Linked DNA regions of Homo sapiens. The protein of the gene in region 2 purifies or fractionates together with the protein of the main gene of each other region. This does not show direct contact. Each region holds a gene or a part of one and is shown on either strand. Other genes may lie near its edges. The genes, in order: NUDCD1 and DHX32.

Region 1 (17,076 bases), on a different chromosome or scaffold from region 2:
TAACAGGCCTGAGCCACTGCTCCGACCGATTTTTTTTTTTCTTTGAAGTTCCGGGGTACATGTGCAGGATGTGCAGGTTTGGTACATAGGTAAACGTGTGCCATGGTGGTTTGCTGCACCCGTCAACCCATCACCTAGGTATTAAGCCCAGCATGCATTAGCAATTTTTCCTAATGCTCTCCCTCCCCCTACCCCATTCTCTGACAGACCACAGTGTGTGTTGTTCCCCTCCCTGTGTCCATGTGATCTCATTATTCAGCTCCCACTTACAAGTGAGAACATGTGGTGTTTTGTGTTCTGTTCCTTCGTTGGTTTGTTGAGGACAGTGGCTTCCAGCTCCTTCCATGTCCCTTTGAAGGATATGATTGTGTTCCTTTTTATGGCTGCATAGTATTCCATGGCGTATGTGTACCACATTTTAAGTACAAGGGACGTGAACAGATACGGGAGTTGAAAAGCTTACCTCAGACTCTGTGGAGGTTGAGTTTGGAAGATGAGATGACTGCACACAGCAGATAGGAGGCTTTTGCAATAGTTCACATGATGAGTTTTTCATTAGGAATTACTTGAGGATGATGAAAAAGATTATTTTGTTTAAAAACTATCATTTCTAGAGATAGTGAAGCATAATTGAGGCGCTTCTGGTAATTTGATTTCTTTTATTCTAACTGAAGGAGTTCACTTTAGTTCCACAAACCTTTGATGGGCACCTTGGCTACCTGAAACACTGCATTTAAGATGTAAAGATGATGTGGTCTCTGGTGTCAAGAACTTGATGCAATGAGGCTTATTCTCTTGTCTTAAATAATGTTATTAAGTTGTACCAAAATTTCCTTTGCTACATAAGCAGTAAATGTCACTTTGTCTTTTTCTATTCCAAAGAACGAAACAAAAAACTTATTTTTAATCAAATTGTAATTGTCTTTTGATCCGGCAATTTCCTTCCTAGGCATTTATAAATATCCTTTTCCTAGAATCTTCATTTAGTACAAGTCTTTTTATATGTTTTTATATGTTTCCCAGCTATATTTCACCTAGCTAATTCATACTTCATTCTTTCATGTTGGCTTACATGTTACTTCCTCAGGGATTCCTTTCTTGACTAGTCAGAATCTACACTATAGAATCTGTATTATGCGTTGCCATAGTAACCAGTACTTCATAGACTTTATCATACTTCGTAGCATCCAGTATGTTTTCTTTGCTAAGATTATTGATTTTGTATTGAAGGGTCCCATGTCCATCGTTTTCAATGCTTTATCTCCAGGGTTGGAGCATGCCTGGTAAGTAGGACATAAATTTGTCTCACAAATTAAACAGCTTTATGAAGACATAATTGACAATAAACTACAAATTTAAAATGTACAACTTAAGAAGTTGTGATATATGTATACACCCGTGAAATCATCACCACAATCAAGATACTAAACTTAGCTATCATTCCCAAAGTTTCCTTGTACCCTTCTGTAACCATCTCTCTGCTCCTTCTGCATTCTAGGTTGACAGTTTTTTCTTTCAATGCTTTAAAGTTATAGCCTCAGTCTTGCTTATATTGTTTCTGATGAGAAATCTCACATTATCCTATCTTTGTTGCTCTATACATAACATGCCTTTTTTCTTCTGTTTTAAGATTTTTCTCTTTTACATTGGTTTTGAGCAGTTTGATAATATTGTGGCCAGCTGTGGTTTTCTTTATGATTCTTATGTTTGGGGTTTGTTGGGCTATAAACTGCGGACATATAGTTTTTATCAAGATCAATGGCAATATTTTGGCTATTATTTCTTCCAACTTTTTCCCCTCCTTTTCTCCTTTGAAGACTCCAGTTACACATTTTTAGATCACAGAAGTTGGTCTCAGCTCATGAATGCCCGTTTCATTTTTTCTTCATACTTTTTTCTGTTTTATTGCCAATAGTTTCCATTTTCATGCCTTTAGTTCCGTTTACTTTTTTTTTTTGTAATATTAGTCTCTTGTTAATCCCATCTGGTGTATTTTTCATCTTGGACATTGTAATATTCACATCTAGAAGTTTGATTTAAATCTTTTGCATCTTTCTTGCTTCTACTTACTTATGTTGAACATACATGGAGTACATGTAGCAATAATTGTTTTTACATCTTGTTCTGTGAATTGTAGCTTCCATGTCAGTTTTATATTGGCTTCTATTGATTGGTAATTCTCTTCATTATGGATTTTGTTTTCTTTCCTCTTTGCATATGTGGTAATCTTTGATTGGATGCCAGACATTGTGAATTTTACCTTGTTAGGTGCAGGTTATTTTTGTATTTTTATAATGTTCTTGAGTTTTTTTTCCGGGATATAGTTGAGTTACTTGGAAACAGATTAATTCCATTGGTTCTTGCTTTTATGATTTGTTAGTCCGATCAGGAGCAGTGCTCAGTCTAGGGTTATTTCCCACTACCGAGGCAAGACTTTCCTGTGTACACTACCCAGTATCCCACAAATTAAGGGTTTTCTCCATTCTGCTTATTGGGAGCAGTTATGGTTCCTAGCCTTATGTGAGTGCCCAGGATTTCTCTTCAACCCTTTCAGATGGTTCTTTCTGTAGCCTGGGGTAATCTCCTCAAACACATGCCATTAGTACTCTTGAGTACTTGAGGCAGACTCTCAGATCTCTGGGCTTCTCTCTGCATCTCTCTTTTCTCTGCTACTCTGTCTAATGACAGAGTAGTAGCCTAGTTTCTTCAACTCAAGGAGGTTGAAGTCAACTCTGCATACAAGTACTCTGGCCTTTTTCTTTCTTCAGAGAAGGGGGAAGAAAAGCTGGTGAAGATTTACACTACAGTTAAAGGGAGGGAAAAGCCATGTAACCGTTGTATTTATGTAGAGTTGACTATACCTCACTTTCCCTTCTTTGTGCTGTGGTCTGGAAACTCCTCAAGGCAGTAAACTAGATTGGTGGTGGGGCTAATCTCATAAGTGTCCTTTGTTGTTTTATGTCTGATGTCTTGAAAACTGTTGTTTCATTTAACTTTCTCTGGTTTGTTTCATCTTATTGGATGTTTCTGGTGGAAAGATAAATCTGGTTCCTATTCTTCCATGTTGGCTGCAAACAAAAGTTATTCAATGTATATTTTTAAGTGAAAAAATATTTTCTGTAGAATAATAGAGCTAGAAACAATTGAAAAGGGCTAATGAGTATAGTGAGAAAATGGATGTATAAACAGCTTTTTAAAGAAGTTTGAGAAGAACAAGGTAGGGGAGAGCTCTGCTTTAGCGGCCAGGCAGAGAAAAGGAAGCCTTTTTTATTTGTTTATTTTGCGAGTGGGGAAGTTTCAGCATATGTAAGTGGAGGAGAAACACCAGTGGACAGGAGATAACTTCTGGCAGGAGAAAATTGAATCATAAACACCTGTGTGGGAATTAGCCTTGAATGGGAGAAAAGGAACAGGGAAATCAATGCTTAATCTTATGTGCCATGCATTGATAGTAAATACATTGCATATTTCGACTGAAGCTTGTCAATGTTTTGGTACAATTAGTATTACTAACCTTTATTATAGATGAGGAAATGGGCAATAAGATGAGCTAACTTAACCAAGTTATTCATCAGTGGCAAAGCTGACCCTAAAGCTCATGCTTTTCCTAATGATCTTTGTGGTCACTCTGGCCTTTTTCTTTCTTCAGAGCAGAGGGAAGAAAAGCTGGTGAAGATTTACACTACAGTTAGAGTAAAGGGAGGGAAAAGCCACGTAACCATTGTATTTATGTAGAGTTGACTATAAAACTCATCTCTACCCTTATGGAGGAAAAGATGGGGAAAATACCCACATGAATGTGTTGAGGTCAGAGAAGTATTGCATAAAATAATTTTATGGGAGCAGTGCTCTTAACTCTGGTCCTCCCGTGTTCTTTAAGTCTCGCTTTAGAATTTGTGGACTTGTACTTTTACTTTTTTACACCTTCATAGATAAATAGCAAGCTCAGTAACTAGGTGAAAAGAAGGCTTATTGGGTTGATTCTAGAAGCTAAGTGGTCCATGAAGTGACCTTTGTAAGTTAACGTTCTTGGCCTCTCTCTTCCCCCTCTTTAAAGATTATTATACTTTGCTTATGTAAATATTAGACTGCATCATATTTAATTGGTGTCAAAGAGTTAAATATTGGCAATATCATGTGGTTCAAGTAATAGTGTATTTTGAGAAGCCAAGAAACAGTAATGAATATCATCGTTAGCACTATTAGTGCAGGAGACAGGTCTGTTTTATTCACTGTTTGTGCCCAATGCCAACCACAATGTCTGGTACATATAGTAGATATTCAATAAATAATTTATGAATGAAAAACTATAGCCCTTTGAGGTCCCATGAGGCTTTTGTGGTTTTCATGTGTGAAAAACTAGGTTTTGAGGTTCGGTAAGTATTTGGGCAAATGTTAAGGGAGACTCTTCTTTTGAGGCCCTAAGTTCTTTTTAGAAGACTAATCCTTATCAGATTTTTCAGCAAAGCTCTTTTATTTTCAATGCAAGGTATCATTAAATAATAAAATATTTACTACACTGGCTTCTCTGTAAAAAGTTCTTCTTCTTCAACCCTTACAAAGATCTATGCAGAGATTGAAGCCTCGCTGCCCCCTACTTCTTTTTTTGGGAGAACTCTGCAAAAGAGCTCTGCCAGTAGCTAAGAACTGTCACATTCTGGACACTGCTTTTCTACTTTCAGTTGCTCTGCCTCCCACTTTTATAATCAAGATAATTGACATGGTCATCATCATGTGATAACTTTTCCTTTCTCATTTGAGGCCAGAGAGGTGTCCTTTTTCTATGCGTTAATAGAGATTTTACAAAATAGCATGTAATATGGCCTAGACTCACATCTGTGTCTTAATAACTTATATAAATTATTTTGTTGGAATGAAACAATCATGAAGTGTTGTAATAAGACTGATGTCTAAGAAGCCTCCAGTTTGTTCAGGATTGCCCAGAGGTCTTTGCACAGATATGAAGAAAATGTATTTGTTATATCGTTGTCTAATATTACTGCTTCAGGCCCTTATGTTACCATGCAGTTTTCCTGCAGTATCGAGTTTCATCCACACAGTGGTGCTAGAAAACCAAGAATACATATTTCTAACTGTTGCTTATAAAATAAGTGGTGTTATATGTTTCCTCAACCTCTATCAAATCTATCATAATTGGATTTTTACCTGTGAGATGTTTCCATTATCTCTCAACCAGATGATTGCAATAGCTTTCTAATGGATCTTCCTGGATTTACCCTGCTTTATTCCAATTTGTTTTCCATATTGTAGTTATAAGTACTCTTTTATAAACTCAAATCTGAACTTTACTCTCCTGCTTAAAAACTGTTAATGAATTCTTTTAAATTGAATTTGTCAACAAAAATAAATACAGTCCATTCATAATCCAGTTCTTGCTGAGTTTTCATTTATTGCAACCTTTCCTGTACAAGTCCCCTTGTTGCTCTGCATTTCGGCCAGTGTGGCCTTCTTTGAACAGTGTGGCCTTCTTTGTGTTCTTTGAACACAAGTTTTTCTTCCTACTTTTTACAGATTTTCCTTCTGTCTGGAAAAGTAGAGGAGTGGGTATGCATGTATATAGGTGTATTTTTTATTTTAAAAATATGTTAAATTGATAAACTGGGATTTTATGTTATATTTTGATGCATGCATACGGTGTGTAATGATCAAATCAGTATTTAGGGTGTTCATCAACTTCAGTATTTACCATTTCTTTGTGTTGGGAACATTTGAAATCTTCTAGCTATTTTGGTACTCGCTGTTTTGAAATACACAATATATTGTTGTTAACTGTAGTCACCCAACTGTGCTATCAAACATGAGAACTTAATCCTTTTAATTGTATGTTTGTACCCATTAAGCAACCTCCCTTCATCCCCCACCCCCATCTTTCCCAGCCTCTGATAACTATCTTTCTACTCTCTCCCTCCATGAAATCCACTTTTTTAGCTGCGTGTATGATGTCTTTCTGTACCTGGTTTATTTTATTTATTTATTTTTGAGATGAAGTCTCACTCTGTCCCAGGCTGGAGTGCAGTGGAGCGATCTCGGCTCACTGCAACCTCTGCCTCCTGGGTTCAAGCGATTCTCGTGCCTCAGCCTCCCCAGTAGTTGGAATTACAGGCACGCACTGTCACACCCAGCTAATTTGTTTTTTGAATTTTTAGTAGAGACGGGGTTTCATCATGTTGGCCAGGATGGTCTCAATCTCCTGACCTCGTGATCCGCCCGCCTTGGCCTCCCAAAGTGCTGGGATTACAGGCCTGAGCCTCGGCGCCCGGCCTTGTGCCTGGTTTATTTCACTTAATGACCTCCAGTTCCATCTATGTTGCTGCAAATGATAGAATTTCGTTCTTTTTTATGGCTGAATAGTATTTCAGTGTGTGTATATACTACATTTTCTTTATCTGTTCATCCTTTGGCCACTTAGGTTTCCCCCATGTCTTGGCTTTTGTAAATAGTGCTGAAATAATCATGGAAGTGACGGTATTCCTTTTGATATACTGACTTTCTTTTGTTTTGATAAATATTCATTTGTGGGAGTGCCTATTGTGGTATAGTAGTTATAGTTTTAGTTTTTTGAGAAACCTCTTTACTATTTTCCATAATGGCTATACTAATTTACATTCCCACTGACAGATTATATGTTCCCTTTTCTCCACATCCTTGCCAGCATTTGTTATTTTTTTTTTTTGTATTTTTTTGAAAATAGCCATTCTAACTACAGGAAGATGATATCTCATTGTGATTTCAATTTGCATTTCCTCAATAATTAGTGATGTTGAGCATTTTTTCATGTAACTGTTGGCTATTTATTTATATATTCTTTTGAGAAATGTCTATTAAGATCTTTGCCCTCTTTATAATGGGACTTTTTTTTTTTTGCTTCAACAGCAAAAAAAATTTTCATTCCTTACGATTGAATAGTTTGCAAATATTTTCTCCCATTCTATAGGTTGTCTCTTCACTAGGTTGTTTGTTTCTTTTGCTCTGCAGAAGGTATTTTTGTTGTTGTTGTTGTTTAGTTAAATATAATCCCATTTGTCTTTTTGTTTTTCTTGCCTATGCTTTTGAGGTCTTAACCATAAAATCTTTGCATAGACCTATATCCTGAAGCATTTCTTCTCTGTTTCCTTTTTGGTATTTTTATAGTTTTTGAGTTGATTTTTGCATATGATGAGAGATAGGAGTCTAATTTTATTTTTCTGCTATGGATATCCAATTTTCACACCATTTATTGAGGAAGGTATCCTTTTCCCAGTGTATGTTCTTTGCACCTTTGTCAAAAATCAGTTGGCTACATGTACATGGATTTATTTCTGATCCATGAGCATGAGATGTCTATTTGTGTCCTCTTCAATTTCTTTCATTAATGTTTTGTAGTTTTCTTGTAGAAGTCTTTCACCTTCTTGTTAAAATACTTTTTCTTAAGTTAATTCTTTCTTATCTTTTATGTCGTGGCTCAAACCTTGGAAAGCTTTTGTTAATCTCCCCAAATAGAACTCTTACATTATGTGTTCTCATGGTACCCAGTGATTATTCTTTATCACAATTTAATTATATAAAATTTATTTCATAAAAATTATTTAAGATTTATATGATTATTTGACTAATGCCCATTTCCTCACTGTATCATAAGTGCTAATTGGCAAGATTCCATTCTTGGCTCATCACTGTGTCATCGATGCCTATTGAAATTTTATTTATTTATTTTTAAATTTATATTAGTTTCTGTATAAATGAATATAAGTCAGACAGGACTCAAAGCAGGTATTGGAAGTGGGAACAGGTGAGCATTTGGGGGAGGAAGAAAACAGTTGCCATCAGAATACAGTAAAGTGAGTTTTATATTAGGGTAGGATATTGGCCCAGCATAATCCATTTATATGTTTCCTGCTGGGGCAGAAATTAATTCCAGATCATGAGCAGTTCTGAGCCATGAAAGTTTCCATCTTCATGAAAGGGCAGGAGGAGTGGGAGGAAGAGATCACATTTGCTAGATTTAAACCTAGGGAAGCAGCTAATGCTTAAGTGAAGAAATCTCTGTTCTGTAAGTAGGAGATCTTGTTTCTAGTCCAGCTGTGATACTGTTTTGCTCTGTACCCTTGGAAAAGATGTAGTATAACATTGGAGAAGTCATTATTTGTGTATACATTTATTTATATAACTGTATAATGAGATTTTAAAAGTTAATTTCTTAATGTGTATTAAAATGAATGAGATAATAGTATATTAAAACATTTTTAAAGTATATAAACACTTCATAAATTGGGCTTAACATTTTCCTGGAAATGGTAGATTCTTCAATTTTAGAATTTCTGTTATTTTTATTCATAATTATTAGAGGTGCCTAAAAGAGGGTCATGACATAAAAAGCCCTATCTCCTGTGGCCGCTGTATTCTAAGTCTTGTAAGGACGTGGGACCATATCAGTTTTACTTACTGTTTATCCTCTGTACACAGTACCCAGAAATTATCTTTGAAAGAATGATATACTGAATTGTCCTGAAGGCCTTTGTGATTGGCATTCTGTGATTTTTTTTTTTGCCTTGTAGGCATTCTACAGATAGAAACTATCTGAGGCAAAACTCTTGATGTTTATGTTTGCTTTTCTTGTATTTCAGCTGTGGCAGAGGTAAAACTTCGAGATGATCAATATACACTGGAACACATGCATGCTTTTGGAATGTATAATTACCTGCACTGTGATTCATGGTATCAAGACAGTGTCTACTATATTGATACCCTTGGAAGAATTATGAATTTAACAGTAATGCTGGTAAGAGAAACATGTATGTAATAATTAATATATGTATGTAATATCAAGCAAATTTGATAATTAAGTTTCCCTTTTGAATCTAATATCCAGAGAAGTGAGGTGCACATACCTGTAGTATATGGAATCCTATCTACGTAATACTCCATTTCTTATTTCAATTTTAATTTTTCTCTTTGATCCTGTTATTTACACTTACTCACCTCCACTCTCACCATTGGGCAGCAACTCTCATGGATTTTATATATTATTAATACTGATGTAACTGTTCATGTCTGCTTTTCCTATGTGAGGTGTTGTCCCCAACTATAATGATGAATTTGCTTTTGTTTTAGTTTTTACTTTATGTATTTTTAACTATGTTAATTGGTACAAACATTTAGGATTGTTTTATTTATACTGAATTGATTCTTTTAGCATTTTAAAATGTCTCTTTATCTCTAGGTTCTGTGAATATTTTTTGTCTTGAAATCTTCTTTGGTATTAATACAGTTATTTCTGGATTTTTGTAAATTAGTATTTTTCTTCTTATATGCTTTTTCTATTTATCAGTGTTCTTGTTTTTAAAGTATGTGTCATAAAGAGCATATAGTTGGCTCTTGTTTTTTCCATATGACAGTCTTTCTCTTAATTGGAGGGCTTACATTTATACTTAATTTAATCTAGTTCCCAATATTCTTGGGCTAATATTACCATCTTGCTCTTCTCATTATGCCCTGTTTGTTCTTTGTTCCTTGGTGTCTTTGTTCCTACTTTTTTGCAGGAGGAATTAATCACAGTTTTTCTTTTTAAAAAAAATGTCCTTAGAACTCGATTTAATTTCCTCTTTTGGCTTTTTATTTAAACCTGTTTGTATTATTATTTTTTAAATGGTTGATACAGAGGTTATAGTGTTTTCCTTGACTTACCACAGTCTGCCTCTAATTAATATTATTTTACTTTAAAAACAATGTGAAAACTTTACAACAATATAATTCCTTTCACTTACCCTCTCATTGTTTGAGCTAATTTTATCATATGTTTTTCACCTTCATATGCTGGAAACTCCACAATACATTGTTAATATATTTGCTTCAAACAGCCAATAATCTGTTAATAGCTTCCTAAGTACTCTATTCCTTCTAGCCCTCCTGCGCATTGCATCTACAGAGTAGTCTGTCTGATTTGCGTGTTTAATATTATCACTTGCTAAAATTCTTTTAATATTTCCTTCATGGCAAAATCCATGTTTTTAATATGTAATTTAAAAATAGGCAATGTGTTCATGTAATTTAAAAACCAAAAAAGTTATAAAAGGTATTTAGTGAAGCCTCCTTGATCCCATCTTTTATCTATCCTATCTCCAGTATCCATTATTTCCCCTGCAATGTCTTTATTGGTTTTGTGTGTCTTTCCAGATGTGGTAGGTTATTTGTTGTTGTTTTTTGCAAGTATAAACACAAAATGATGTTGCGGGAAGTCAGGGACCCCAAATGGAGGGACCAGCTGAAGCCATGGCAGAAGAACGTAGATTGTGAAGATTTCATGGACATATATTAGCTCCCCAAATTAATACTTTTGTAATTTCTTATGCCTGTCTTTACTGCAATCTCTTAAACATAAATTGTAAAGATTTCATGGACACTTATCACTTCCCCAATCAGTACCCTTGTGATTTCCTATGCTTGTCTTTTCTTTAATCTCTTAATCCTGTCAGCTGAGGAGGATGTCTATCGCCTCAGGACCCTGTAATAATTGCATTAACTGCACAAATTGTACAGCATGTGTGTTTGAGCAATATGAAATGTGGGCACCTTGAAAAAAGAACAGGATAACAGCAATTGTTCAGGGAGTAAGAGAGATAACCTTAAACTCTGACCGCAGGTGAGCTGGGCGGAACAGAGCCATATTTCTCTTCTTTCAAAAGCAAATGGGAGAAATATCGCTGAATTCTTTTTCTCAGCATGGAACATCCCTGAGAAAGAGAATGTGCACCTGGGGGTGGGTCTCTGAACTGGCCCCCCTGGGCATGGTCGTCTCTTATGGTCGAGACTGCAGAGGTGAAATAGATTCCAGTCTCCCATAGTGCTCCCAGGCTTATTAGGAAGAGGAAATTCCTGCCTAATAAATTTTGGTCAGACCGGTTGATCTCAAAACCCTGTCTCCTGATAAGATGTTATCAATGACAATGGTGCCTGAAACTTCATTAGCAATTTTAATTTCGCCCCAGTCCTGTGGTTTTGTGATCTCGCCCTGCCTCTACTTGCCTTGTGATATTCTATTACCTTGTAAACTACTTGATGTCTGTGACCCACACCTATTCGCACACTCCCTCCCCTTTTGAAAATCCCTAATAAAAACTTGCTGGTTTTTGCGGCTAGTGGGGCATCATGGAACCTACTGACATGTGATGTCTCCCCCGGATGCCCGGCTTTAAAATTTCTCTCTTTTGTACTCTGTCCCTTAATTTCTCAAGCTGGCCGATGCTTAGGGAAAATAGAAAAGAACCTAGGTGAATATTGGGGCAGGCTCCCTGATGAAATGATATATATTCTTAAAATAAACTTTTCATCTTTGCATATACGTTTATATGCCGAGTTTTCTCCAACCTTGTCTTACAGCACTTTGTATACTACATTCTAGCCATACTAAACTCTTGCAGTTCCTGAGACATGTGCTGTATCCTATTTCTTCTGGTCCTTTTCTCATTGATTAACTACCTGGAGCATACTTTTAATTCAGTGTCAGTCTGCTTTGCAATCTTTACTTAAGTCCTAGGTAACCATTTTGTCATCTAGCAAGCTTGCCTTGACATCTTACCTCTGTTCCCCTAGGAATATTCACACCATTGGCTCTCAAATCTACATGTGCTGTGAATTTCTTCTATTCTAGAGGTTGATACGCTTTTCTGCACAAGGCCAGCTAATTTAGGCTTTGTGGGCCAGATAGTCTCTTGTTGCTCGCTTTTGCTGTTGTAGTGTGAAATCAGCCATAGACAGTTTATAAGCAAGTGAGTGTGGCCGTGTTCCAATTAACCTTTATTTACAAAAACATAAAATGGGCCGAGCGCGGTGGCTCACGCCTGTAATCCCAGCACTTTGGGAGGCAGAGGCGGGCGGATCATGAGGTTAGGAGATCGAGACCATCCTGGCTGACACGATGAAACCCTGTCTCTACTAAAAATACAAAAAATTAGCCAGGCGTGGTGGCAGGTCCCTGTAGTCCCAGCTACTCAGGAGGCTGAGGCAGGAGAATGGCGTGAACCTGGGAGGCAGAGCTTGCAGTGAGCAGAGCTTGCAGTGAGCCAAGATCGCACCACTGCACTCCAGCCTGGGCCACAGAGCAAGAGTCCGTCTCAAAAAAAAAAAAAAAAACATAAAATGGGCAGGAATTGGCCTGTGGACTATAGTTTGCCACCCACTGGACGAGGCCATGGGTTCTAGCACCCAGCAGAAGGCTTGATCAGTATATTTGTTGAATGGATAATAGCTGTGTAAAGTTCATTATTACTGTTGGGAGTTGGCTTTGGAATAGGGTCTTCCTCCTGTTATTTCTAATCCAAGTGTAGGTATGAGTTCTGTATTGGCAATGCAGTGTTTATCTCAAAATGTTCAGAAAGGAGTTAGACATTTCCTGGTAATAAATATTTTCCTTCAGGTGACTCCTAAAACAGATAGTGTAAAATTCTGATTGTTTCTTGTTGGATCAGAGGAATGCAATCTGGCCTCTTACTCTTAGATATTAGTTGCTTTTTCTTGCTAGCCCCATGTTCTACTAAGGATTACTATCTAGGCCCAATGTGTATAAGCCAACTAAAGTGATAGGACATGCATTTTTATGAGTGGCTATGCTCTGATCTCTCTGATCAAATAAATTTTAATGATCAAATAGATTTTGATGTAGAGTTCTGTGTGTATGTGCATGAAAGTTTTTCCTTAATCCTTTTTGTGTTAACAAATAGGGCATTTGTTGATAGCATTTGCTGTACCATAAAGTTTGCCAATAACATTTATTCTACCAATTTTCTGACTCGAAGTCAGATGACATTATGGTAGATCTGAAAGTGTTAATTTTTGTAGTACCATCCATATTCATAATCTATTTTACTTTTCCATAGATATCTTGTGGCACATGTAATGTAGCTCTAATACGTGTTGTTAGGGAGGTAGGGTAGTTGGTCAAAAGGAAACTAGACATTTAAGACAGACTTACCAAATGAGTTCATTTTAACGTGTTTATTGAAAACCTGCTCTGTGTAGGACACTAATGTATAGGTTGGTGCAAAAATAAAAACTGTTTTACCATTATTTTTAACATGTTCAAGTACTTATACTTCTACATATAAGTTCAGGTAACTTATATGTTATACTTTTTAGGTGCTAATATGAGTGTACAGGTAACTATTACATGGTAATATGTAGCTGACAAAAAGGGTACAGCAGTCTCCATATATCCTTGGCTTCAGTTTCATAGAAAATAAGAATAATGATAAGGTTTTTTAGACGTTAAAGCAAGGTGTGTGAAAATGCTTTGAAAAGTGGAAGGCATTATGCAAATATAAAGAGATATTACTGGCATATGCCTTGGGGTATCACTTTATGGGAGACAAACACTGGCTAGTTTTTTTTGCACATATTCCTTCTTTGAGAGCAGTAGAACTGTATGATAAGAATAAATCATAATGTCAGGTAACTTTTATTGCATAGAGATTATTACATATCAGGAACAATTCTAAACACTTTACACGTACTAACTGTTTAATCCACAGAACAATGGATCCTGTGGATCCTTTCTCATAGGATAATATCCTGATATTATCCTGATATACCAGATACTATTATTATCCACATCTTACAGTTGAGGAAACTGAGGCATAGGATGTTTGTAAGAGTCTGGATTTAAACTCATTTATTCCAGAATGCCACAGTGCTCTACCAGTTCTCCTTATTTCTTGTTAATAGAGACGGATATTATGTGTTAATAGAGACAGAGTTTCACCATGTTGCCCAGGCTGGTTTTGAACCCCTAGGCTCCAGAGATCCGCCTGCCTCAGTCTCCCAAAGTGCTGGAGGATTACAGGCATGAGCAACTGCTCCTGGTCTCTATTATCATTTTCAGTGCCAGTTCTCTAATCACCTGTTCAGTTTTTTGTGCAGTAATGGGTTTATTCAAAGTGTGTTTCTAGGGTAATTTTGTAATATGTATTTTTATTAGAGGAAACCATCAGTTTCCTCTTAGGTTTCCAAATATGCTGCTATAAAGTTGCATGCGTTATGCTCTTAAGATTATTGTTGTCTTTTCTCTTTCCTTTCTATATTTTTCCTCTTTTTACCTAATCAAGCTTTAGGAAAGGTATTAGTTTATTTTTAAAGAACCATGTTTTAGGTTCTTAAAGCTTGTTTTCTGCTTAATTTTCTTTGGTTCTCAGACCATATTGTACCTTGGAATAATTGTGGAGTAATTGATCAAAACAAAAACTAATTTCAAGGTACCATTTCCCAAAATTCTGATTCATTATTGTCAGGGTTGGTCATGGACTGGGAACCTGCATTTTATCAAGCACCTCAGGTGGTTTTGCTTGTGGTCCAGGGATGACCAGGTATTAAGAAATTTTGTACCTGGGATACAGAAGAATACTACACTTATTTTTTATTATTTTTCTCATCAGCAACAAATGAAATCAACCTACTCTGAGTTTCTGTCAGGTGCAGGCAGGTAGAGAATGTTGACCACTAACTAGACTATTGGCTTATAGCAGAAAACAGCTCTTCCAATATCCATTTTATTGTTTAATAATTTTTTTTGTTTTCTTTTGTTTTCATCAAAGGCACACGTGCACAAATCCTAGACAGGCTCCTTTTCTGTGACTGATGTACAAATGACCACCTTTGTTAAACCTGAACTGTTGTAGTAAAAGTGAATGCTATGGGACCCAACACTTGAAAGCCATAGGTTGCTAGGTCTTCAGACTGTCTGGAGCCAACAGGTGGCAGCAGGTCTACATACTGGTTTATAAAGACAGAATACTCTCCTTACAAAAAAGTTTAACTTGTAGGTTTACAGTCCTTAATTTTAGGGAAATGTCCCTCGGAAAGAAGTGTGCTAAGGAAGTAGAAAATGCCTTGGGAAAGCAAAAATGTGTTTAAACTTTGGTTTTTTAATACATCCTTATTTTATATATTATGGCTTATTTTAAAGTAATGTGTTCCGTTTCTTAATATTTAGGAAATTATTTCTGTAATAATTTGTTTTGTATTTACCTGAAAAGCTAATTTGTTTCTGTTACTAAAAGAGTGTCATCTTATAGTGCCTCTTTAATTTGTACTTAAAGGTCTAAGGGGCAGTTACTGGATTTCATTTGTAAGAATATATGTGTGAGGTTGCATCTTGGAGTGACATGTTACAACTATTTGTTAGAGGAGCTCAGTTTTATGTCAGTATGTTCATCTCTAGGCCTGAATGTCAGCTTGTTTTCACAGTTGAGTTAATTATTAGGGGACCACTTACTTACCTGTGTAGAGACGAAGGCAAAGTGTCCCCTTTATTCTTAGAAGGTTTGCTGAAAATCTGTTGACAAACGGCAGATTAACATGAGAAAAAGGCATATAAATATATTTTAACATGTGTACATGGCAGAATCCAGGAAAATGACTACCCAGTAACCCAGTGGGGTACAGATGCTTATATACCCTTATTCATACCCTTCTTATGCTTGATCAGTAGGGGACATGGGGGACATGCGGGATAGCAAATGATCTTTAGGGGGAAATGAATGAATGGGCCTGATGCTCAGACAATGATTAGTTAATACTTTTCTTTGGAAATTGAATGGGATGGAGAGCAGACAATGGTTTGTGACTAAGTTCATCTGGGCTGTAGGTGGGGTGTTTAATTTTCAGCCTCTTCCTCTGTGATAGAAGTTTTAATCTTCTCTGGTTAATGAAATTTCAGGGAAAGCAATTGTGTTTCTCTTTGGCAGGTCCAGTTTATAGGTAGATGAAGGAACTTCAGAGAATAGCTTCATCCTGTGCTTGGGAGAAACAGGAAGGGAGGGGAGGCCAGAAAGACCTTGAGGCTGCTTCATGTTGAAGTGGCATTATTTCGGAGTAACATTTTTTGAGCTGCAATGCCTGATGAAAGAAAAAAATAAAGAGTGGGGTAAATACGTAGAACTGTGCGTTTAATACAAAAAAAAGGGAAAAGGAAAAAGGAACTTTTTATGTTCTTTCTTCCAAATAAAGTTAATGGTTATTAATGATGAAAATACTTTGTCCAGAAAAAGATCACTGCCTTTTAAAACGGCAAAGTTTTAAATATCATTGTCTCATAATACTAGTAAATAGTATCTAATAATACTAGTAAATGGTATCCCCACTTGCTTATTTTTTTAAACTTGAGTAGCCCTTTCTATAAATCTATATTTATTAGAAAACTACTTCGTTAGTTCAAAGATTCTCTACTTATAGCTGCAACTAAGAGGGTCCCAAAATGTGTTTAAAGATGTTTTTTATAAATATATATAGTTTATGTATTACTTGTTTACTGTTTATTTACAGTGTCATTTATATATAATATATGGGCATTATAATTTTTATATTACATCTATATTGACCCAGGCATCTGCATTAAAAATACTGTGTAGAGGCCTGAAGAAAAACTGAATATAGTAGTTACATTCAAGGTTGATTTGGGGGGTTGGGGATGGGTATACTAGAAATTGTATTGAGATCTGAAGTATTAATTTATTTAGAAAATCTTCAGAAGTGGTTTCTTCTCAAGCAAATGTGGAGTAGGGGAAAGAAAACCAACTTTTGGAGTAGGGTTTTATCAGGATTTGAGTCTTGGCCCTGTCATTTTCTAGCAGTGGAGCTCCAGGCAAATTATTTAATCTTTTTGAACCTCTCTTCTAAGTGTAGTTAATAATTTTAACTTCATAGAGTTTGGTGATAAATACATGACATGGCAAAAAGTCAAAGCACTTATTTAATAAAATTCTTATACATTATACTGATTCAGTAAGTATTCCGTTCATCAATGAAATTTTAATCCTTCTGCAGTCAGCTGTGTAATGTTGCCTTAGAATGATTTTCAGTGTTAGCCCTTGAACGTAGTTACATTAACTCTTTTTGTGAGGAAAAAGAAAATGATTATGTGAGAGCTGGACATTATAGATGTCAGTTAGCATATAAAGTGTTGTTATGAGGGCATGTAGTGAAATTGTCAATAGAGGTTATTCAGATATAAGTAAATGCTATATTTTGGGATTTAGAGAAAAAGATATTTTATTGCTTATAGTCCATTTAAAATTAAACTGTACTTTG
Region 2 (17,076 bases):
AAAAACTGCATTTAATTTATTTCTCTTTGCTCATGAAACACATTCTGCAAGATTAGTTTATTACAGTGTGTTGATAATAGTATAAACATTATACATTCCTGGAAGTACAACAAATATACCAATCCAACAGTCTTCATTTTCCTTTTCTGCCTTCCTCTACATTAGAGCAAACTATTTCACCTATGAGGCAAAGACATTAATTCAGAAATGGGAAAAGGCCATCTAAATATCAGTTACAATAACCAGTAGAAGACTGAACATATCCATATCGTGCTTAATGTAGGAATGTTTGCTTACGTGCCCAAGTTAATAGTTGAGCAGAAGTCACAACAAATTATACTGCACGTACTCAACTGTGGCTCTGACCACATAGGATGCAGCTCCCCTTCCAGTAACAGCTACTTGGAGATAGTTAACAGTAAGCAATGCAAACACAAACTGAAAAGGTTATCTCCAGCCAGAAAAGAGGGAAACATGAAACCATCTGCCTTATTTGTTAGAGTTCTCCAGTTTTACATGCCTTCTGAATCACTCTGGGCAAGCTAAGTAACATACTGAGGGTTGATTCCTTAGCAAACTTGAATTACTGGCTAAAAAATGTTATCATTTGGCAAATGTCGATAATTTGAGTATTTCACATTTCAAGGGATACTGAGATTGCAGCTTTACAAAGAACTCTTGCCTTCTCTGCATTTATAGTAAATATTGTATCTCTTGTTGGTATTGACCTTTCTTCCCCTAGTTCTGCTTCTTTTCTTTTTTTTTTTTTTTTTGAGATGGAGTCTCACTCTTGTTGCCCAGGCTGGAGTGCAATGGCAGGATCTTGGCTCACTGCAACCTCCGCCTCCCGGGTTCAAGCAATTCTCCTGCCTCAGCGTCCCAAGTAGCTGGGATTACAGGCACGCACCAGCACACCTGGCTAATTTTGTATTTTTAGTAGAGACGAGGTTTCTCCATGCTGGTCAGGCTGGTCTCCAATTCCCAACCTCAGGTGATCCGCCCGCCTCGGCCTCCCAAAGTGCTGGGATTACAGGTGTGAGCCACAACACCTGGCCTAACTTTTCTGGGTACTACTTAGCAACTTTTTCATTGTCCCAGTTGCATCTTTGTCTTCTCACCAATGACTTACAAGCCTGTTAGAGGTTTTGTTTCTACCCCATAGTTCCTCTTTGGAAGATATTCCCCCCTAGTATTAAAAAACATTATTCTGGATGGACTAGTTGCCAAGTTGGCACTATGGGAATTAGAAAAGCTTAAATAGTTGTACCTTTCTATGAATCATTTGGCTTTAACTTTTTTCAGAGAAACATTGAATTCTGGGTCACTTTGTGACTGAGTACTTAGCAAAAGTTGCACAATATGGTGAAGAAACAGAAAATTGCTCCTCTAACACATAAAAAAAGCTATTTTCATGTGATTTATCCTGGGAGTTTGGTGATGTGCAACCCTTGGATTTACGCATTTGGTCTGGAAATGCTCCCTAACTAGAAATCAATACTTCACATCTCTTTATTCTGAACTCACCAAATACTTTTTTCATGTTTCTCAATCCATTTTCTAAATTCAGTTTTCTGTACTTCTGATGTGCCATTTGCATAAAGCCAGAGCAGTGGGGCCTGCCCTATGCTCTGTCCCAAAGCCCAGCTGGAACTGACTCTGGGGCATGCAAGGTAAGCAATCGAGGCATGAGAATGTGCATCCCTGGCCTCTTACCGCCTACCTGAAAGGAAATCACCAACACTCTGGCCAATCTGCTGCTATGAGAGTAGGTAAGAGGAGTCCTCCGGGTAATCAAAATCTAATCTAAATCAAGGCTTTATCAACCTAAGTTAGCAACTGCAGTTCTACAACTTGTACAAATTCAGACAGTGAGGCAAAGATGCTCCATTCCCAACTCCGGGCAGCACACAGAGGTTGGGCTGCTGGGTAGTGGGAGAGCTGGGGCCTGGGGTCTTTAGGGTGGGCTGCAGGGAGATCTCCTATAAGAATCTGCAACCAGATCCAGATCAGAATCAAGGGAGCAGCAGCGGCATCACGTATCCGTGTATGGTCTCATCACTGCCACTGTGGCAAGAGGACCTCCACATGAGCTACACTGGTGTAGAACTTTCTGTCCTTTCCATCTACTGCCAGTGATTGTTTCACCTCATCTAATGGATAATAAAGTTAGTTAACTATAATTTAATATAGTTAAATGAGAATAAATGAAGTGAGAAAAAAAGGACCTCCATGAGACACAATGCTATTACTGTTCTGTTAGACACATACTAGTCCCAAAGGCCTCTAATCCCTCACTTTTGATCATCAGGACGTCCATCAGGGCCTGAGTCCTCTTCTGCTTTCTTCTCTTAATGTCTCTAGGACCACCAATCCTGAAGCTACTGCCAAGGTCCCAATCACTCCCTTTAATTTCAGTACCAGAAAAACAGAATCTACAAGTTTAAAGGAATCTAAAGAACCACCAATTCACCCAAAGGTGAATTCAACACATTCAGTGTTGAATTCATCAGCACAAGCTCATGGTTTTTAAGTTTGCAAGTCTTAATGGTTTCAACAACATTCCTGTAAAATGCCTAGCCTGAGTATGCCCCTAAGGCAGCTATCCCACCCAAAGTGAGCCAATATATCAGAATCCATTACTGAGGAGTGAGGTCCCTTCTGAATCAAATATCACACATCCCTGGATAACAATTCACATACATCTTGGTTTTGAGTGAATACAGGTAGAACCTACCAGCAGAAAATGGTGAACAAGTTTACTCAGTCAATAGAAGTACAGATGTTCTAAGTCATACATCTTTTAGAATCTAAGTTAATTCTTTTTCATATCTTTTCATATCTTTTTCACCTCACTGACCCATCCATTCATGGGAAATTTCAGGACAAAAACTAGAGAAGGAGAAATAAGCAAAATATACACTTCTAGAGATGTTTTTCTCTCTCTTTTAGGATCGTTCATAACCTGTCTGCAAAAAATGTAATAAGAAAAGATTCTATAAACATATGGGAAATTGTCCTCTGTTTCTGCACCAAAGACAGGTGAAATCTTTAGGACCTTTGTAAAGCTTGGCTCTGAAGAAAGACTTTTTTCTTGAAAGGTTTAAAACTCTGAAGAACAAGAAAACAGTCTCGCAAACTCTTAAAACAACAACAACAAAAACCAAGTTGTTTCCAAAAGAAACCAACCAATGCTCCCACTATCTAAATTAGTTTAGGATAGATCCATTTTCTTATTTGAGTACCATTTTGATTTTTCTCACTTTGAAGATACATGTCGTCCCAATTAACAGAAAATAAGCCTAATTCATTGAAATAATTGAGAAATTAAAAATGACAAGAGAAACCATTGCTAGGTATTAATATAACATATAACATATAACAATTCTTGCTCTTGAAGATGATAAATTCTAAAACTCAAGAAGTAGATTAAAAAAATTTTTTAAACTGCAGTGTGGATTAGCAATTCTGAAACTACAATATGAATTGTTCTTTTGAGTATCTTTACTTGTTCAATCTGAGAACAGGTAAAGATAGTGTGAATAACACGAAGCCCTGTTTCTCATAGAGAAGTTATGGATATGAAAACTGGGAAGGCTAGAATAAACCCTGTAGTGCTAAACTGGAATCAGAGGCATCAGTACAAACTCATGGTTTTTAAGATATAGAAAGAGAGATAAAAAATATGAGAGGTAAGAAAATAGAAATACATAAAAATAGAGAAAGACAGAGAGAAACAGAGCCACAAATAGATGGATAGAATGAGACGTGTGTATATTGCACTCACATACATTTATTTCCTTGTTGTGTCCACTGAGATGGCCTAAAAGCAATGATAGGCCGGGTGAAGTGGGCCTATAATCCCAGCACTTTGGGAGGCCAAGGCAGGTAGGTTGCTTGAGCCCAGGAGTCCGAGACCAACCTGGGCAACATGACAAAACCCCGTCTCTATAAAAAATACAAAAATTAGTTGAGTGTAGTGGCACACACTTGTAGTCCCAGCTACTCTAAAGGCTGAGGTGGGAGGATCACTTGAGCCCAGGATGTTGAGGTTGCAGTGAGCCGTGATCATGCCACTGCACTCCAGCCTGGGTGACAGAATGAAACACTGTCTCAAAAAAAAAATTGCAATGATAAACCAATGGTAATAGGTACTTAGTGTCCAGATCTTGGTTTCAAAACACAGTTCACCACTAAACGGAACAAGGACTCCTGGAGAAAAAAAAAATGGTTTCTACACCGGCATGCGGAATGTACTAGATGAACCTGGAACATCTTACTGAGCCAGAAAGCAAAGAAGTGCTCAATAATGGGGAAATGTCAAAAGGACAGAGAAGCCACATTGGGGGCAATTTGAACAACAAAGTAAGTAGGCTTAGTAATACATTATAACCCATAGAATAAAATAAGAATTTATGAGTCCACATTGACATAAATAAATGATGAAGGAGAGAAAGCTCAGACTTACAGAAAGATTCTAAATAATGTGTAGAAGGCATGTCAGAATTAGAATAATCATCTTTGGTTACTACTAATGTAATAATTCAAAGGTAAGAATCACCAAAAATGCTAACACTAGTGGATGAATGTGAAACTGCCTTTGCAGAAATTGTAACAGTGAGAAAATTATGATGGTGAAGGAGATCTGACCTGACAACTCCATCTTGCCTTTCACCCCCAAACTCCCTTAGCCATTCCTGCAGTGGGCCAAGCTAACTTTTGTAGATAGTTTATAGTTTAAATGATGACAGCAAAATGAAACTGCCTTTGTAAAACTAATGAAAGGACACCAGGTTAGGAGGATGAGAGGGGCCTGAATTCTGCCAAGATGTAGGTGTAGTTAAATGATTACCAGTCATTATTCCAGAGGTCACAAGATTTGTAACCTCCCTGTAAATAACATCACTATTATAGAACCTAAGATTGGCCTTCTGAGATGTCTTTTCAGGTTTTTGTATTTCTGACAACTGGAGGCCCTATAACTGGATAGACCAGTAACTCCTCTGTTGTCCCTACCCAGAAGTGGACTCAGCACATGAGGACTGTTTTCCACACCTCTGTGATTGCATCCTCAGCCAATCAGCAGTACCCATTCCTTAGCCCCCTGCCCACCAAACTATCCTTGAAAAACTCTAGCCTCCAAATTGACAAAGAGGCTGATTGGAGTAATAGTACAACTCCTGTCTGCTGTTTAGCCAGCTTTATGTGTATTAAATTCATTCTCTATTTCAATTCCCTTGTCTTGATAAATTGGCTCTATCTTGACAACAAACAAGATGAACCCATTGGGTGGTTACAAATGTATAATGAGAAACATTTACATACTTTCAAAATATGTATCTATTAAATGATTGGAGGGAAATTGTTAACTTTTCAATAAAGAACCAGGCAGATACCACCTTACCAAGGGATCAGAATTAACATCACCAGCATGGGCAAAACTGACATCTTGTGCCTCCTGATATGAGGCACTGAGAAGGATACACAGCACTTGTGTGATCTTCTTGCCACAAATGCAGAGCCGGAACCTAACCCTAAGGAAACATCAGACATGTTCAAACTGAGGGAGGTTCTGCAGAATATATAACCTGTGCTCTTCAAAAATGTCAAAGTCATAAAGGACAGGGAGAGACTGGGGAGTTGTGTCAGATTAAAAAACGACAATAAAATACAATGCAATTTTAGATTGGATTTTGGACCAGAAAAACAATTTTTTTCAGTGATTATAAAGGCTATCAATGGGAAACTGATTAAATGTGAATGTCTAGAAATCAGATAATAATTAGATATCAACATTACATTCCAGATTTTGATAATTATGTTACGGCTACACACTGTTTTTCAGTAAATAAATACTCTGTTAAGTATTTGGAGGCAAAGGGCATCATGTCCTCAACCTACCCCTAAATGGTTCAGAATAAAAATGTGTATGAATGTATGGAGGGGGCAGGGAGGGAAAGATAAAGTTTATATGGTAAAATCTTACATTTGGGGAATCTGGGTGAACAACATATGGAAAATCTTTGTACTATTTTTGCAACTTTTTGTAAGTTTGAAATTATTGTAAAATAAAAACACATTTTTTCAATGTTATTTGTCCACAGAAACTAGGAAAATTATACTCAGTCAGTTCTCATCGTTAGCTTCTCGTAATGAACTGAAATCGTTTGTTATAACAATAACAGCGTAACAAAGAACAAATCATAATAAACCTTTGATACTGGCAGCTGTAAATCAGATAAAAAACATCTGTTGTCCAGCCCTCCTCTTTTCAAATTACCTTTAAAGTAAGTTAACTTTAGGGCAGGTACAGTGGCTCATGTTTGTAATCCCAGCACTTTGGGAGGTGAAGGTGGGAGGATCGCTTGAGCCCAGGAGTTCGAGACCAGCCTGGCCAAAATTGTGAAACCCTGACTCTACTAAAAATACAAAAATAAGCCAAGCATGATGGTGCATGCCTGTAATCCCAGCTACTCAAGAGGCTGAGGCACAAGAATTGCTTGAACCGGGAGACGGAGGTCATAGTAAGCCAAGACTGCCCCACTGCATTCCAGCCTGGGTGACAGAACGAGCCTCTCTGTCTCAAAAAATAATAGTGATAATAAAATAGGTAAACTCTAGAGATAATAAACAACTTGAAAGCAACAATTTATAGTAGAAAATATTCTTTTAACTCCAATTCAGAAAGCTACTGACATTAGATAGACAAATTATCAAATCCTTCTGGGCCACAGTTTATTCATCTGAAAAATGAAGGGGTTCCATCAGTTTCTAATTCTATTCTATTAGAGCATAGTCTATTCTACTAGATCTATTCGTAACTTCTCTATGAGAAATGGGACTTCTTATTATTCACACTATATGGTCTATTCTAATTCTTACATCGCGAGAATCTAGAAATGAATTTCATGATAAAAATACTGGTTGCTTGCTTTAAAACTTAAGAGTAAAATATGGATCTCACTTGAACAAAAACTTGAAGTCCAAATACAACAACAAACTGAATAATAAGTATTTATTAACTATCTAATGTTGGGGCTCAGGACATACCTCCCCAGAATATGACTGAAGGAGACCAGAATATGTGACCCCAAAATATGCCTCCTTTGCACATTTTGAGAAAGTGTAGACATAGGAGTAGCTCTGAAAAGTTACCTTTTTAAAGATAAATTTGTGCCTATACAAGAAATCTCTGCTTATAAGGGCATCTCCCTCTCTGCAACAGGAGGAGATGACTAAGTAAAGAAGACATCGACTTACATCTTCATAACAAACTTCACCTTCATTTAAGGTGCTTTTCCTGGCCATCTCATCTTAACAGGGTTGTTCCCCACAACCTTTTTTACTTTGTTTCAGAGAATGATGGTATTTAAGCCCAAAATTTAAATGCTTTCTTTGAGATCTACTCTAGAGACTTGCTCATTTCTCTGGGGTTTTCCCGTGTATACATGAGGCATACATATTAATACACTTCTGTTTTTCTTCTGTTAATTTGTCTTTTGTTACAGGGAGCCTCAGATAAGAGTTATGAAGGACAGAGAAAATTATTACTTTTTCCTTCTCTACACTACCTTGTTTTTCTTGGTGTTTTTTTTTGTTTTGTTTTGTTTTCTTTTTTTTTTTGAGATGGAGTCTTACTCTGTCACCCAGGCTGGAGTGCAGTGACACAATCTCAGCTCACTGCAACCTCCACCTCCTGGGTTCAAGTGATTCTCCTGCCTCAGCCTCCCAAGGAGCTGGGACTACAGGTGTGCATCACCATGCCCAGCTAATTTTTGTATTTTTTAGTAGAGTCAGGGTTTCACCATATTGGACAGGCTGGTCTCGAACTCCTGACTTCATGATCTGCCCGTCTCGGCCTCCCAAAGTGCTGAGATTACAGGCATGAGCCACAGCGCCCAGCCTTTTCTTGTTTTTTTTTTTTTTTTTTTTTTTTTTGAGACGGGGTCTTGCTCTGTTGCCCAGGCTGAAGTACAGTGGCATGAACATGGCTCACTGCAGCCTTGACCTCATGGGCTCAAGTGATCCTTCTGCCTCAGCCTCTTGGGTAGCTGGGACCACAGGCACGCACCACCATGCCCAGCTAATTTTTTAATTTTTTATAAAGTTGGGATCTTGCCATGTTGCCCAGCCTGGTCTCAAACTGCTGGACTCAAGCAATCCTCCTGCCTCAGCCTCCCAAAGTGATGGGATTATAGGTGTGAACCACTGCACCTGGCCCACTATCCCGTTAAACAAACAAACAAACTTTAATTGAGAGGCCATTAGGCTGAGGCAATGACAGAGCTCTAGAAGGTCCCACATAAGCAAACTAAAGTCCAATGTAAACAGTAAAACCATACTAGACTTTATCAATCAGAAACTGCCAACTATTCCCTAACTCGGAACTTTCCACTCTAACCAATTTAAATGTCTTTTGTCTTACTTTCATGTTCAGCCTATAAAAGCTCACTGCCCTTGCTGCTAGAATGGGGCTCACTAACCTCCAATGGTTCTGAGTGCTGCGTAATTCATGAGTCATTCTTTGCTCAAACAAACTCCTTGTTTTTTTTGTTTTTTTTCTGAGACAAGGTCTCTCACTCACATCGCCCAGGCTGGAATGCAGGGGCATCATCACAGCTCACTGCAGCCTCAACTTCCCAGGTTCAGGTGATTCTCTCACCTCAGCCTCCCAAGTAGCTGGGACGACAGGCATGCAGCACCATGCCCGGCTACTTCTTTGTAGAGACGGCATTTTGCCATGTTGCCCAGGCTGGTCTTGAACTCCTGGGCTCAAATGATCTGTCCACCTTGGTCTCCCAAAGTGCTGGGATTCCAGATGTGAGCCACTGTGCCTGCTCCAACTCTTTAATATTTTAATATCCCTAGGTTTATCTCTTAATGATCCTAATTCTTTCCCCCATCTTAGACCCCAAAGTGTGTGGCCCCAGGCCTGGATCATATTTAGTTGCTCAGTTATTTCTTATAGTCAGGAAAATCAGAATTTCCTTGTGCTTTTGATTTCAGTAGCTCAGCCAGCTTCACCAGCAAGCACATCCACATATCTGGATTCTCAGACCACTGGGCACTGAAACAGAGCAGTTAATCCCCATACCCATGCTGAGGAAATAACACGCATCACATCTTTTAAAATATCATATACACAATGGATCATTTGAGTAAATTTAATACTAGGATCATTTGAGTAATTTTAATACTGCTCTATAGACAATTCAGTGGTACCCTAAACACAATTAATTTCTACATAGATATTATTAACTTTTCAGCTAGTATTAGTAAAATTAATAAAATTAGGTACGTGATTTAATTATTTTATCTGAATAATGTTTTGTTTTTTGTTTTAGACACTATTATTAGAACACTAGGCTGTGACATGTCATTAAATAACAATTAAAAAATCAACACATACAGCAAATTATTTTTTGTAGTGGTTACTCACCTGAGCGCTCTTACCACATTTAGCATCTCCTGAAACAATCACGATTTGATTTTGAAGCAGGTTCTCCATAAAGGAGTATTTTTCTTTCCATATAGGAAGATCTTCTCTTTCTTTCAGAAGTTTATAATAACGTGATGAATATGGCAATCCATCAAAGGGGTTAAGTTCCAAATCCTCACAGGCCAAAACCTCTTCCTCATCCCCATCGCTGGAATCCAGGGATTCAGGAAAATAGCGTTTTTCAGAGGAAGAGTTTGGACACTCCAGCCCTTCTTCTTCCATCTTGTCTGACAGTGAGCTCACGCAGCTGACATTCCACAAGCAAGTTTCTCCTATCAGTAACCCATTGCAAACAGGGCTTAAAAGCCTATTTATACAAACCCGTATGTTCCAATCTCTAAGACTTCAGTTCAAGGTTTTAGCAAGTTAAATTCCTCAAACCTGCATCTGTTCTCCGTTGCTGTGTTACCCACTGTGCTGGCTCACTACAGCACTCTTCGGCATTGTAAATGATTGTCAATAAACCACACTAAGAAACAAACAAACAAAAAGAGTAAGGAAAATTAGGAACACATATAAGTTAAAAAGAAAATGCACAGGAGTTCAAATGAAAAGCATTATTTTTTTTTTTTCTGTTAACGGGTTTCTGTCATTTCTGCTGCCTGCTTAAAAGAACAGGAATAATTTAGGCTGGTGTTTAAAGTTTGGTGGGTTCCGGTATTTCCTGGCTGGTTCAGAAAATGATTCTGCACTGGGCCTCGTGCTCTCTGCCTGACCTCTATCTCAGGCTCTGCGTCTTGATCAACTGTGAATGGAAAGCAACAGGAGGGACAGGATTGTGATTGTGAGGCTAATCAATCACGTGGTCACCTAATCCCATGTCAAAAGAGGAGCTGGACCCTATAAAAGGAAAGAACTGTGATGACCTGGTGAGTGTTCCTCTAACACAGGCTACAGGAAAATCTATTATTAAGAAATCCTTTACTTTAATGAAAAACATTTTTAAAACTTTTCATTTTCCTTTTGCTTATGTCAGTTTAGAAAGCCAAGTGAGGGGAATGAATTTATTATTTCCTTCCATATGTAGTTATGGTTGGCTTTTATTTTATATATATATAAAAAAGACAGGGTCTCGCTCTGTCACCCAGGCTGGATGCAGTGGCGTGATCATGGCTCACTGCAGCCTCAACCTCCCAGGCTGTTTTCCCCCTGCCTCAGCCTCCTGAGTAGCTGGGACTACAGGTGTACACCACTATGTCCAGCTAATTTCTGTATTTTTTTGTAGAGACGGAGTTTTGCCTTGTTGCCCAGGCTAGTTTCGAACTCCTGGGCTCAAGTGGTCTGTCCTCCTTGGCCTCCCAAAGTGCTGGGATTTCAAATGTGAGCCACCATGCCCAGCTGGCTGGCTTTTATTAATAAGGTCTTTTGTTTAATTAAACCAGAAATCTCTAGCATATTTCTTGAGATTCCTGGGTCTTGAGCCCAACATGTCAGCTCCAAGAGGCCATTAAGGACAACTTTTAATTTAAATGAAGAAGAGAAATCACCCAAGAAAGAGCAAGATTTATACCAATAACTCAGTCCCCACATGTCAGGTGAAGGGTCTTTCCCCTTCCAATTACTAGTGATTAAAAAGAAAAATTCCATTAGTGTTGCTGGAAATAAGCTCCTTTTCACATTAACCAGATAAAAATGAAAAAGAAAACTCAAGTTAAAAAGAATAATAAAATACAGTTCATGATATTTTGTAAGTTACTGCACTTTTCGGATCACCTGGTTTACCTTAATTATTGCTTTAGATGGTTGGAGCCAGTGTGCTCAACAGCTAGTTCCTAATTAGTAAGTGATAAGAAAAGCTCTCTCTCTATTGGTCAAGACAGGCTCCAGGGCAACAGTCAATCACTCAAAAAACATTTGCTGAGTGTCTTCTAAGGGCTTATTAGATGAGTAAACTAGGCACTAGATACACACATAAAGGATATTTTGAAGATGGCAGCAAGAGCAGGATAGAAAGTTTTAAAATTCACAGATGAACAAGCTAGTTTAGAGGTAAGTAACCAGAGAGGCAGAAGAACTTCATAGCTCTTCCCAAGTAAAGTTCTTAAAAATTCATCTAAAAGCCAGTGTTTCAAAATTAAAATGGAATTACAAAGGCATAATAGAAATGTTGTAATATGGATTCACTTCAGAACTCTTCACTGCCTCTATAAGGTGAGAGTAGACCCACAGAATAGCTCCAGGAAGCATGGTAGCTTGAGATCATCGCACAAGCTAATTCTGGGAAGGTATCCAAGAATCAGAAAATTCCACTCTTCAGAGAAGTTAAAATTTAATTTTATATTCTATTTTTCTTTTGTTCTGATTAGAATCCCTTCCAAGGGTTCTCAGCCTACATGTAAATTAAATTGCTATTAAATATTATAACCAATGATTGCCTTAGGTAGTATTTCTTAACTGTTTTACCTTAAAAAAAGAACAGCTATTATTTTTACCAAAAAGAAATGTTTCTCTTATTTATAATACTCCCTAAGAGTGTAATAATCTTATAATTACAGTAAATTCTTACTTATAAAGCACTGACCACTTTGAACCCTGAGGAAATAATCAAGTTTTCTGAATAGTCTTCTTTCTAAAGACCTGAGACTTACCTGGCCCCTTCATCACACATTGTGCAATGTATCCACACACATTAGCCTTAACCACTTCTCTGTTATAGTGGAATTAAAGATGGCCACAGATTATTTGCCACTGTTCCAAATGGAGAGGTAGAGTCTATTTCCTCTCCCCTTGAATCTGAGCTGGCCCTGTGACCAGTGTCACTATGACTAAAATAATGCAGTTAAGTGATACTGAATCACTTCCAAGATATTCCCATGCTTGAAACACTCCTCTTTAGAACCAGCTGTCATTCTATGAGGTACCCACGCCCAAGCCACCGGGAAGAGACCAAAGCTGAACTTCCAGTCCACAGCAGCATAAACCTTCAACCATGTGAACAAGCTGCCTAAGATGCCCCAGCCCAGTCGAGCCTCCAGATGACTGCAACCCCAGCCAACTGAGCAGAAGCAGCATCCACAGGAGCCCATACAACCCAAAGTATCATGAGACAACAAATGGTCACTGTTTTTGTAAGCTACTAAGTTGCAGGGTGGTTTGACTTGCAGAAACAGATAACCAGACTTCTGCCTTCTTAAATAAACTATACTCACAATTTAACTTTTTCATTGTGACTCAAGGTCACCATTACATCAGTTGCCAAAACAGAATGATGTCCTCAGATGTCTCCGAAATCTACAGAAGCCAAAGACCAGACTGCTCTCCTGGAGCCCTGCTCTTCCCTGGGGACTCAGAACCCATGCCACTGTGTGGTGTGGCCTCTTACCTTGTGAGGCTCTTCTCTGCCTTTCTAACCTGCTCTCCTAACCGGTGCATTAGAAGCCAGACAAGCTTGTTTGACAGACACATTTGTAAAGCTTGAGTCCACAAAGGATGCTACCATTGAATCCAATGAGTCTGAGGCGCAAAACTATGACATTTATAGACTCTGGAACATCTATTTCGACTACTCAGAAGGACCTTTTGCTGCTATATGGTTTGGATTCCAAATTTGGAGGGTGGAGTGGCTGAGACCTAACTAGAGGAGTTGGGCCCATTGACTCCAATAACATTCATATACCTCTCCTTATTCATCTTGCAACTGGTGTAAGCCATGTAAATGTTTTTTCCTAGAGGTAATTAAATATGTACCAAAGATCTATGTCTTGGCCTTTGGCAAATTTAACAGTACCAGTCTAAAGAAAGAGAAACAAATAATATGGTAGGTTAGATGTCATTCAAAATAAAGTTTCATAACTGTTCTGTTGTAAGTATAAACTACATTCCACTATAAGAAATTTAAATCTGAAAGATTGACATTTGCTCTTTCAAAGCTATCATACATGTATATTGTAGATGGCACACTTTGTCAAGGACAGCTATTTGAAATCAATCTATTACAGCTCTTAAACATGCATCCATGAAAATAATACATATCTAATTAACAGACAACCTTAACAAGGTAGAATTAGAAGTCAATGTAAGATGAAGCTATGTCTTAGTCATTTATGTGTTTGGCTCTGGTCCAGTAATTCTAGAAATACAGTTCACAGAAATGGAAAGACAAAGTTTGTAAGGCATTAAGTGAAGCAAAAGCATTAATTTGTCCTGAGTAACTTATGTTTCACCATTCAGTGCTCCTCTTTTGTGTGTTTTTTTTTTCTGTATTCAAGCCAATATTACTGCTTACTTTTCATGTATCAAATACCCAAATACATAATTTTAGCACTTGGTAGATATCTGGAAGTTCCCAATGCTTAGTTCCTGGACCTCTCTTCCCCTTTCTCTCTTTAATAGGGCCTAAGTGGTCTCATCTCATCTCATGGCTTTAGTGCCATCCATACTTGGATGTATGGGTGTATCTGTCCTTAGGATCCATCGATCTAAACTTCAGTGTCATGTATTCAACTACCTATGCATCATCTCCCACTTGGATATTTAATAGGAAACTCAGACTTTACACGCCTGCAACTGAGCTCCCAACATGTACCCCAAAGCCACAAATCTGGTCCCCCCAATTTCAGTTAATTCCTTCCTTCCCATTGCTCAGATCAAAGTATTTGAAGTTACCCTTGATTTTTCTCTATCTTAAATCCCACATCTGGTCCTTCGACTGATGTGGTATGTAGAATGGCCTCCAAAGATGTGCATGTAGGAATCCCTGGAACCTATGAATATGTACTTTGCATGGCAAAAGGGACTCTACAGATGTGATTAAATTAATAACCTTGAGATTGGAAGATTATCCTGGACGATCCTGGTGAGCCCAATCTAATTACATGAGTCTTAACAATCAGAGGACCCTCCTAGCCACAGTCAGAGGAAAATATGACTATGGAAGAAGGTCGGAGAGATGCAATGTTGTGGGCTTTGAAGGTGGAGGAAGGGGCCACGGCCGAAGAATGATGTGAGTGACCTCTAGGAGCTAGAAGAGGCAAGGAAACAGATCATCTTCTAGAATTTCCAGAAACGAACACAGTCCTGCTGGCACCTTGATTGTAGTCCAGTGAGACCGACAACCGACTTCTGATCTACGAAGCTGTTAAGACAATAAATTACCACTCAATTTATGGTAATTTCTTATAGAAGCAATAGAAAACTAATATATTCAATCATGTCAGTTCTGTCTTCAAAAAATATCAAGTGCCCCATAACCTCTACTGTGAACACTTGGTCTGAGCCACTACCCCTCTCACCTGGATTACTGCAATAGCCTCCTAACCGGCCTTCCTCTACCCTTAGCCCCTTACAGTCAGGTCTCAAGCCTGCAGTCAGAGTCATCCTATTAAAGTCAGCTCATGTCTCCTCTGCTCAATAGTCTCCAATACTTCCCATCTCATCTCACTCTGAGGAAAAACCAAAATCCTTAAGAGGACCAACAATCACTGTATGATCTGGACCCATCGCCTCTCTGCCCTCATTTGCAACAGCTCCTACTTCAGTCTTCCCTAGCCAGACGGCTCCCCTGCTATTCCTCAAACACCATGGCAGATGCCTGCCTCTGGAACTTGGTGTTCACCCTTCTGTATGTCTGAAATGTTCCTCCCTCAGATATCCAAATGGCTAGCTTCCTTGCTGCATAAAGGTCGTTACCAAATGGCAGTTCAGTAAATGCTTCCCTGGCCACCCTATCTAAACTTTTACCGCTCTCCCACACTCCCAAAAACCACTTCCTAACCTCTTTAACTGCTTCATTTTTTCTCCTTAAGACCACCACCTAACATAATGTATACATTTTCCCTCTTTGTTTTCTGTTGGTGCCCTTCACTGGAATGTGAGCTCTATGAAGCAGGGCTTAGTGTCTCCACTGCAGTCTATCTTGCATAGTTACGTCCTTCATTATTTCACTCTTAGCTAAGTTCAAGGTAGTTTACTACTGCTGCATAGAGTTTAAACACTTCTATCAGGAATTCACTATGTTTCTGGATTTATGTGACTTTTTTGTTCCCTTCTGTTTATGATATATGATAGACTCTTGCTATTCTTAGAATTCTTTAAGACTCACAAACCCACAAACTGGAATATTTGTAGAGGCTCCTGGTCGTCCCTTGAATCATACATCCAAACCCCAAATTAACTCCTTTCAACATTTATTAAAGCTGCTTTCTTCTTGATCAATTCAGAAGAGTTATCATGTTGAAAAGTACAAAGCTGCACTGAGATTCAGACAATGGCATGTATCACGCTTGCTCTAGCAGATCACTGATCTTTGTGGGACCGCTTGTAAACTGCACATGCTGAGGAGGCAACATCAAGTATGAGGGGACTCTTGAACCGTTTGTACTAGTGATTATCTTTTCCCCATGTCTTTCTGTCTCTTTACTTACACTGTTATTGGAGCTACACCTTCTTCACTGGTAATTTCCACTCCTAAATCCAAATACAGTGGGTGACTAATTAATAATTACGGGCTGAGTAAATAGTGAATGAGTCATTTTCTATCCTTTAGGGATCATATGCTTCTAAGGGCAACATCTGATTGTATTTTACCATCGATATCATTCATAATCTAATAGGTCTTCTGTGTCTTCAAGTTTTCTCATCCTCAATGCCTCCATTTTTGGGTTTTCCATTTACCTGTTCAACCAATACTTGAGTGCCTAATATGTGTCTGCAATGTGAACATGGTAGGGACACAGTTTGAACAGGCAGGTCTGGTTAGGTGAGGCTGAGGGTGGGGTGTGGAAATAGAAATTCTTTGTCTATGATATGTAGACTCAACCTTACAGACAATTACTTAAAAGAAGGCAAGTGTGGCTGGTACCTAATTGCAGAGAAAGACTTTGGTACAAGATGAGTTCAAAGATGAGATAGGGGCCAGATCGCAAAATACCTGATCTGCTATGGTAAAAAAGTTGTGATTACAGTGCCATGGGTCTAACTTACCTAGTCATTTCTTGATCCAAATTTCATTTTTTACTCTTTTTTTCCTTAAAATTCTCCTCTTAAATTTCAGGTTACAGTCTTTTCTTTATTTTACATTGTATGTGTTTGTGTGTGTGTTTTTTTTTAAATTTTAGAAATAGGGACAGAGTCTATGTTGCCCAGGCTGTATTCAACTCCTGGGCTCAAGTGATCCTCCTGCCTTAGCTTTCCGAGTAGCTAGAAGTAGAGGTGCACACCACCATGCCTGCCTTATATTCTTTAATATTACCTATAATCTTTCTAACACCCACCTTCAATTTTCTTAAAGTCATTAGTGAGATTAGGTAACAGTTTATGGCAAAAGGCACAACAAACGTGATTATGAGCAGGTGCACCAAGCATGGCAATAAGAGAAACCAATATATCCACTTCCATGTAAAACATTCTAAGAAATATTAAAAATGAAATAACACTTCTTGACTTGAACATTTTGCATTATTTTCCTTTTTTCCCTAAGCCCACTCAACAGTAAATTAGTCTGCAAAAATAAATCTGTCTCATGATCTGACTCATAGTTTGTAAACCCTGTACTATATAATATACATATTTATATGTAAAATATACACGCCTTGCCTTTTAAAAATTATTATGTTTATATTACCCCAGAATTTGTTTCAACA

Evidence for each region.
Region 1: the proteins of DHX32 (region 2) and NUDCD1 purify together in Homo sapiens (co-immunoprecipitation; 3 studies listed by BioGRID and IntAct, with this or other methods). This does not show direct contact.

The regions. Positions count from the first base shown.
Region 1 is NC_000008.11:109,314,012-109,331,087, reverse strand, and holds part of NUDCD1 (nudC domain-containing protein 1), read left to right. Parts: intron 1-1,153; exon of another isoform or gene 1,154-1,252; coding exon of another isoform or gene 1,253-1,283; intron 1,284-8,624; coding exon 8,625-8,779; intron 8,780-17,076.
Region 2 is NC_000010.11:125,871,107-125,888,182, forward strand, and holds the start of DHX32 (putative pre-mRNA-splicing factor ATP-dependent RNA helicase DHX32), read right to left. Parts: upstream 10,187-17,076; 5' UTR 9,719-10,186; coding exon 9,437-9,718; intron 1-9,436.